Regions from separate parts of the Homo sapiens genome. Here region 2 is reported to be linked to region 1. The links are microRNA targets in miRTarBase. Many come from high-throughput screens and were not tested one by one. Region 1 holds a microRNA gene; the other region holds the end of a gene's coding sequence.
Evidence for each region. Region 1 holds the annotated microRNA hsa-miR-6514-3p (CUGCCUGUUCUUCCACUCCAG, at 2,355-2,375, opposite strand). A microRNA usually pairs through its seed, bases 2 to 8, with sites in the 3' UTR of a target mRNA and lowers its output. Matches are read on the target gene's strand: a 7mer-m8 pairs with bases 2 to 8, a 7mer-A1 pairs with bases 2 to 7 and ends in A, and an 8mer does both.

Region 1 (3,130 bases):
AGGGATGACTGCTCCTTTATTTGTTGTTAATGAATCTTGACCTCCTTGTGTGACCCTGGTTGTTACTCCATTCTAAGATTGGCGTTTTTTTTTGTTTTTTTTTTTGTAAATAGAGACAAGGTCTCGCTATGTTGCCCAGCCTGGGCTCGAGCAGTGCTCCTGCCTCACCCTCCCAAAGTGCTGGGATTACAACAGGTGTGAACCAACACACCTGGCTCCCCAAGGTTCAGTTTTTATCCTCCTCTTGGAGAGGTGAGTGACTTGAGGTCATTTCTTCACAAGCTCCGGTAGGCACCCACAGTATTGTCAAAGAGTTTTGTGTTAGGGAAGTGTCCAGTTTTGTCCAAGAGGAAATAGAAGCGTCGGCCTTTGACTTTCAGAGGTAGCATGGCAGGGACTTCACCCCGGTGGGCCATGCAAGATACCTGCTTCAAAGGAACTGTGAAATGGGCCCCCAAGCCAAAGGGGGCATGAGTGGTGAGGGTCACCTGCTGCCCTCCAGCTCGAAGCACCACTGAGCGCACAGACCGGAGAGAGAAGAGAAGACCAGCACCGAGTACGAGGGCTCCTGCAGGCAGGGCAGAGATTGGGGTGAGGGGTTTTCACTGGGCATCTAAGTACCGACCTTTCCAGTGCCCTCTGAATAAGAAATTTGTGGGATGAAAGTAGTATTTACTGAGCGCTTTTTTTTTTGAGACTGAGTCTCACTCTGCCGGCCAGGCTGGAGTGCAGTACTGAGCTCCTGTTATACCCAGTAATCTTGTTATTCCTCCCAACAACCTTAATAGATGTCCGTTTCCATTTTAATGGGAAGATGGAGAGCTTTAAGGACCTTGCTCAAGGTCGCAGAGTGAAGGGCAGCCCTCAGCCTAGGCTATGACAGGGCACGGCGCTCGGAGACATCACTGTTTCCCAATTTTTTTTTTTGAGAGGGGAGTCTCGCTCGGTCGCTTAGGCTGGAGTGCAGTGGCGTCATCTCGGCTCACTGCAACCTCCGCCTCCCAGGTTCAATTGATTCTCCTGCCTCAGCCTCCCGAGTAGCTGGGACTACAGGCGCTTGCTACCACGCCCAGCTAATTTTTTGTATTTTTAGTAGACACAGGGTTTGACGGTGTTAGCCAGGATGGTCTGGATGTCCTGACCTAGTGATCCGCCCGCCTCCGGCCTCCCAGCATTTGAGCCGCCGCGCCCGGCCAGTGTTTCACATTTCTGTGGGGTAAAGCCCGCCCGCCACTCTCGGATAGGGAGTCCCTGACTCTCCCTGCCTGTATAGGGAAGGTCGTGTCCCGCCACCCCACGTTGTCACAGTGGGAAGCCAGCCCACGTCTTACCGATGGCGCCGCAGCCGACGGCCAGACCGTAGCGCCAGAGCGCGGAGCGCAGGTCGAAGGGGCCACGATTTGGGACCTCCGCATCCAGAGGCTGCACCGGAACCGGGGGCCGGGACACGGCTGCCACAGCCATGGAAGCCCAGAAGACGCCCTGGCCCGCGCAGAACAGCCCGAGGATGGTGAAGAAGCGGCCCCGATCATGCTCAAAGAGCAGCACATCCCGTTGCAGCGTCGTGCCTTGCAGGGGCCGGCAGGTGAGCAGGGGCCGCAGCACGGCTAGCAGCCCCGTGGGCCATCGCCTCCAAGGCGCCGCCATGGCCAGCCGACTTCCGGGGTGGGGCTTCCTGCCGCAGAGCCGCCTTCCGCCCTCCCTGGGCGCCCCCGCTAGAGGGCCCGCCCCCCTCGCTCAGGGCTGGGAGGAGACAACCAATCCAGCACGCAGAACACGAAATACAACATCACTCTTTATATTAAAAAGTGCAGAACACGAAATACAACATCACTCTTTATATTAAAAAGTAAGGAGGTCCTGGGGTTAAGTACACAAAGCACCTAAGTCCTTCGGGTAGTTTAGTGTCAGTTCTACAAAGTAAGCTTTGGCTTCCTGGCACCAGTGAGGCTCAATCTTCTGAAGTCTTCCAGAAGGCAGGCGAGGAGAGGGATCAGGCAGCCCTCCCTCCCTCGGTCACAGTCACGGGGCGGCCTCGGGCCAGACAGGAGGAGATGACAGACGACAACCAGACGGTAATATCCAAGGACTATTTACAGGGGGGACTGCTTCTGAGGCATGACTACGATCACTTCATGAATGCCACTTCTGGGATCTCGCCCTTGGCCTGGAGAAAAATGAAGGTCAGTAGAGGTAGGCCTACCCTCGCCACTCAGCAACCCCACTCAGCTAACCTGACCTCCTGGAGGCCCAGAGATCCTAGTCTTTTTGCCACTGTATTTCCAGACCTTACCTTGAGATGAGTGAAGGCCTGGGCAGATCTGGTGTAGTCCCAGTTGTTGTCCTGAAGGCACCTGGAGTGGAAGAACAGGCAGCTCTGTAAGAACTCTGACTCGTAAATGCCAGCTGAAAGTCCACTCCATAAAAGCACCCAAGTTTGCCAACAAATATGTACATTCTTATACATCCTTGCACTATTTATACAAATGAGACATTAGTAAAAGTCCAGATGTTCTACCAATGGCTTCTCAAAGATAAGGAATATTAAATAGCTGTCAAGAAGCTCAAGATAGTTTTTACAGTGGTAGGGAAAGATGTTCATGGTGTAAGTAAAGAAACTAAGTTGCAGAACAGTATATGAAAAGGAACTTCCATTTTACCTTTAAAGTTTTTTATGTTAATTTATACACAGGCAAATTTTTTATAGACTATCAGGTTTGTGTTTTTCTGTTTGCTTTTTTTTTTTTTTTGAGACCGAGTCTTGCTCTGTCACCAGGCTGGAGTGCAGTGGCGTGATCTCGGCTCACTGCAACCTCCGCCTTCCAGGTTCAAGCAATTCTCCTGCCTCAGCCTCCCGAGTAGTTGGGACTACAGGCGTGGAACGCCAAGCCCCGCTAATTTTTGTATTTTTAGTAGAGACGAGATTTCACCATGTTGTCCAGGATGGTCTTGATCTCTTGACCTCGTGATCTGGCCGCCTCAGCCTCCCAAAGTGCTGGGATTACAGGTGTGAGCCACCTCTCCCAGCCAACTATTAGGTTTTTTTAAGCAGCCAAAAGTTTTGCCTTTTAAAATTTCAGGAGCCCAGGCACAGTAACTCACACCTATAACCGCAGCACTTTGGGAGGCC
Region 2 (5,126 bases), not on the chromosome of region 1:
CTTGCTCTTGATGCCCAGGCTGGAGTGCAATGACACGATCTCAGCTCACTGCAACCTCCACCTCTTGGGTTCAAGCGATTCTCCTGCCTCAGCCTCCCGAGTAGCTGAGATTGCAGGTGCCCGCCACCATGTCCAGCTAATTTTTCTATTTTTAGTAGAGATGGGGTTTCGCCATGTTGGCCAGGCTGGTCTTGTGATCCGCCTGCCTTGGCCCCCGAAAGTGCTGGGATTACAGGCGTGAGCCACCGCGCCTGACCTAAAACATATTATTATTATTATTATTATTTTTCTTTGAGATGGAGTTTCACTCTTTTTGCCCAGGCTGGAGTGCAATGGTGCGATCTCAGCTTATTGCAACCTCCGCCTCCTGGGTTCAAGCGATTCTCCTGCCTCAGCCTCCTGAGTAGCTGGGATTACAGACATGCACCACCACGTCCGGCTAATTTTGTATTTTTAGTAGAGATGGGGTTTCTCCATGTTGGTCAGGCTGGTCTGGAACTCCCGACCTCAGGTGATCCACCCACCTCGGCCTCCCAAAGTGCTGGGATTACAGGCATGAGCCACCGTGCCTGGCTTAACATATTCTTTAAGAAAGGTTTTCTGGACTGTTTGTTGAACTTGAGATGATCATTATTTCGTCCAAAGTCTTCTGTAGATAGACCTCTGTTTTGGGCACTAGGAGACGGAGTAGCTTAAAGAGCTCCTAATTCAGTGGGCTCTGAGTTAGAACAGGAGCACAGGAGTAGGGTCAAATTGATAACTCCAATGCAGAATGTATAAAAGTTGAGGGGATGCAAAGTGGCTAGACTTGGTTAGTTTTGATTAGTCAAGACTTTCTTGAGATTAGTTTCGAGCAGAATTTGGCATAGAGAAATGTATAATAAAGAACATTCTAATGTCTGGGCCTCTCACCCGGAAGCCACGTATCATATGGTTGCTCATTGTTCTAAATGAACAGTAAGGCTTTATTCTACTATCTCCTTATTACAGAAGGGAGTCAGATTGCAGTGGGGGAGAAAGCTGACTGACTGGAACCCAGGAAGGACAGTGCCATCCTGGGTGACCCTTCCCTCATCATGACAGAAGCCCTTCTCTGGAGCAAGGCAGTCACTAGGCAATCACTCAGAGGACGGAGTTCATAGGTGTCCATCCTTTTCTACCTGGCTAATTTCTATAGCCATGGCTGCAGGGAGCTCCCTGAGCCAGATGGATGGGCTAGAGGTCCCTGGGGGATTCCCCCACCCCAGGCTGCTGGGATAACTGTCAACAGTGTTCTTGTCTCTTCCAGGCTCCTCTGGCCCAGCCTGAGTCCCCCACCGCCTCAGCTGGAGATGAGCCCCGGTCCACTCCTGAGTCTGGAGACTCAGACAAGGAGTCAGTTGGCAGCAGTTCCACCAGCAACGAGGGCGGCCGGCGGAAGGAGAAGTCAAAGCGAGATCGGGAGAAGGACAAGAAGAGAGCAGATTCTGTGGCTAACAAACTGGGCAGCTTTGGCAAAACCTTGGGCAGCAAGCTCAAGAAGAACATGGGGGGCCTGATGCACAGCAAGGGTTCAAAGCCTGGAGGGGTGGGGACAGGGTTGGGAGGAAGCAGCGGCACTGAGACACTGGAGAAGAAGAAGAAAAACTCACTGAAGAGCTGGAAGGGTGGCAAGGAGGAGGCAGCTGGGGATGGGCCTGTGTCTGAGAAGCCCCCAGCTGAGTCTGTTGGTAACGGAGGGAGCAAGTATAGCCAGGAGGTGATGCAGAGCCTGAGCATTCTGAGGACTGCCATGCAAGGGGAGGGGAAGTTTATTTTTGTTGGAACCCTGAAGATGGGTCACCGTCACCAGTATCAGGAGGAAATGATCCAGCGCTACCTTTCTGATGCTGAGGAGAGATTCCTGGCAGAACAGAAGCAGAAGGAGGCAGAGAGGAAGATCATGAATGGAGGAATAGGGGGTGGCCCTCCTCCAGCCAAAAAGCCAGAGCCAGATGCTAGGGAAGAGCAGCCGACCGGTCCCCCAGCAGAGTCCAGGGCAATGGCATTTTCCACTGGCTACCCTGGGGACTTTACTATCCCTCGGCCGTCTGGGGGCGGAGTCCACTGCCAGGAACCCCGGAGGCAGTTGGCAGGGGGTCCATGTGTCGGGGGCCTACCACCATATGCCACCTTCCCCAGACAGTGCCCTCCTGGGCGACCCTACCCCCACCAGGACAGCATCCCTTCTCTGGAGCCAGGCAGCCACTCTAAGGATGGACTTCACAGGGGTGCCTTGTTACCACCCCCCTACCGAGTGGCTGATTCCTATAGCAATGGCTACAGAGAGCCCCCTGAGCCAGATGGATGGGCTGGAGGTCTCCGGGGCCTTCCCCCAACTCAGACCAAATGCAAACAACCGAACTGCAGCTTCTATGGACACCCTGAGACAAACAACTTCTGTTCCTGTTGTTACAGGGAAGAACTGAGGAGGAGGGAGCGGGAACCGGATGGGGAGCTCCTGGTGCACAGGTTCTGAACGGGTGGAACACTGAAGGGCAAGGAGGCTAAACAAAGTTAAGCTCAACTAATTGGCTCATCAAGAACACAGTCCCCATGTTGAGGGGGAAAATGCAGTAATGTTTGTGGGAGCCTGGCTGGAAACTTTTAAGTGTGTGCACACAGGAGTGCTGCCAGGCTGGCAAGAGCAGGTCGGGGCTGGATGGCACCTCAGGGGCTGTACTATTCCTCTGCAGAGCTTGACTTGATGAGGTTTGAGGTACAAGGGGAAAAGATGGCGATTCTGTCTTATAACCTCCTGGGTCCCATCCAGGGACCTAAGAGAAAGTAGCAGGGGAAGGTTTGGTGTGTGGGGGTGGGAGGTGGGCAGAAGTCTTGGGGAGGAATGGGCAAAGGAGGTTCTCAGTCAATAAAACCAAAGTTCTTTAGGTTGGGAAAAAGCACATGGTGGAGTGAGAAGTGTGGAGGGGAAGTGGGAAATTGGACACATTTGCTATTGATTTGAATTAAGCTAGAAATTAAGGTTGGATAAATTCTTCCCCTTGAAGGATCTGGAAAGACAAGGCAGTAATGTGTCCTCATGGGTGCCTGTTAGGAGGTGGGGGTAGTTTAAATCCGTTTGTTTAGATGGGAAAGGGAGGAACTTAAGAGGGAAATCCTTTTCCTCTTAAGGTTTATTTCCTTCCAAGCAGTCATATGTCATCTGTTACAGTTTGAGAAGAGATTGCTGATTACCCCCTGTCTTTTCCTCATCTAAGTCTTTAATTGTATTTGTTTAAAGGGAAGAGTGTGGTGAGAACAGCCGTCATGTGTGTTGCATTTTCTCCAGGTGAATTGGGGCAGAGCTGATCTATTTTTTAACCACAGCAATAACCATACGTTGGGGTTTGAGTGCACCTTGGGAGGGGTGGGAGGACAGACATTTTAGCCAGAGGCTGTTTCAAACAAAACCAAAAACCTAAGTAGAGCATTACAGGCCTCTGTGGCTGCTGCGTTTCTGTAGAAAGCAACTTATTTTATTGACTTTTTTTTTTAAGGAAAAGAAATAAAAAGACCCCAGCAAGCAAAAACATTTAAAAAATGATTTTTTTTCCTCCTACTTAAGTGGTTCTTTCTCCCTTTGCTCTACTTTTGGAGAATGAACTTAACATCCCGGCTTCTTTTGTTAAGCCATAGCTGACCTTAATCTGTGGTTAGTTTATTAAAATAATTAAAAATACTTTCTAAGAAGAGATATTTTTGATATTAGGACTGATGTTGAAACATATAGGGGCAATTTATAAAAAGGTAGTTAGAGAAATATATTTTAGTGAACTATAACCACAGAGCACAGATGACTCCCAATGAGCTGATCTGTCTTTAGGTTTCTCCCTTTCCCTGACCCTTCCCTGTTCTCTAGGGGCTGGGAGTGGGGATGCGGACACAGTAGGGGGAGCTCCTTCGCATTTTGCACAAAGCACAAGTCTGAACAGCCTATGCTCTGGCCAGAGCCATTTCTAAGAGCTTTAAACCGGAAGACCTATCCTGGGCCAATTTTCCTTTTTCTTTATATTTTTTTCCGGGAAAAAAAGTCAACTATGCAATTGTATACACTCCCGGGTGCATGTGAAGAAGGGGAATAAGTGTACTTATGTGTCCAGAGTATTAACTGGGGCTGTTTTTCTGTGTTTGGATTTCTCTTTTGAGGTATGTACTCATAACCCATCCCTTGGAACGTAATCCCCACATTTGATCTAAAGCACTTGAGCGTGCATGCATGTGCGTGCGTGCATATGTGTGTGTGTTTTCCTCCTCGGTAGCCAGTCAAGATTGTCCTTGTTGGAAATGCTCACGGTTTATAAAGGTTATTTTCTCCTCAACAAACTCAGAAGTCACCTATTTTCCAAATCTGATTTAATAATTTCCTATGGCTATTAATTCTTAGGGTTTTCTTTGAAAATAGATTTGTGTTAAGGAAGCAGTGAGATTCCAAAGGAAGGGATGTGTATATGTCTAGGCAGGTCTGGAACCTGGTATGAGATGAGCACTCCCCTAAGTTGCAAAATTTAAGGGTTACTATAAAACTCATTAATCAAGATACTATAAAAAATGCAGTATTTAAAAAAATTAATGCAAAAAATTTATGTTGGATAAAATAGCGAAATCTTACAGGATCTGACAGGACTGAGATTAGGAGGAGGGAAGTGAGGCTGAATTGAATAAGTATGGGGATGAATCCTTCTTATTTAAATTTTTGATACATTGTCCATCATAGACTTTTTACATTAATTGTGATTTTTTAAAAATGTTGCATTAAAATAGTATTTATCTTGGTTACTGGGTTTTTTGGCACTCCTTAAATTTTGTGCCCAAGGTGAGTGCTTTGCTCACCTCACCCTAGTTACGTCCCTGTTTCTGTGATTTGAACACTAGCGAGAACACCACTGTGTGCGCCTCCACCCCCATCACACACCAAACAACAGGTGGCTCAGACACCCTGAATTTGCACAGCTCACCTAGCTTTCCTAATTTAGGCCTTCATATCATAGAATGGTGGCCTGGACCAATAGGAATGAAAACAGACCAGGGGTTTTCCCAGAGAATAAAGCCGGAAAAGTTTTGATTCTCCACTGGACTGCTGTGTTTGGATTTGATCTGTTGTTAGATTC

Region 2: the mRNA of OTUD7B is a reported target of hsa-miR-6514-3p. The part of its 3' UTR that is shown has no 7-base or 8-base seed match.

The regions. Positions count from the first base shown.
Region 1 is chr11:62,790,348-62,793,477 of GRCh38, forward strand. MIR6514 (microRNA 6514) reads right to left here and starts at 2,424; the gene lies at 2,355-2,424. TMEM223 (transmembrane protein 223) reads right to left here and starts at 1,659. Exons shown (of 2, transcript NM_001080501.3): 1 at 1,332-1,659; 2 at 1-568. The coding sequence starts at 1,647. The coding sequence ends at 276. It overlaps NXF1 (nuclear RNA export factor 1), which reads right to left. Exons shown (of 21, transcript NM_006362.5): 20 at 2,294-2,354; 21 at 1,783-2,167. The coding sequence ends at 2,129. TMEM179B (transmembrane protein 179B) reads left to right here. Exons shown (of 5, transcript NM_199337.3): 5 at 1-53. RefSeq lists an enhancer at 1,059-1,568 and a silencer at 1,639-1,788.
Region 2 is chr1:149,941,228-149,946,353 of GRCh38, reverse strand. OTUD7B (OTU deubiquitinase 7B) reads left to right here. Exons shown (of 12, transcript NM_020205.4): 12 at 1,289-5,126. The coding sequence ends at 2,497. Among named protein-coding and RNA genes, the nearest start is that of MTMR11, 6.9 kb to the right of the region's middle.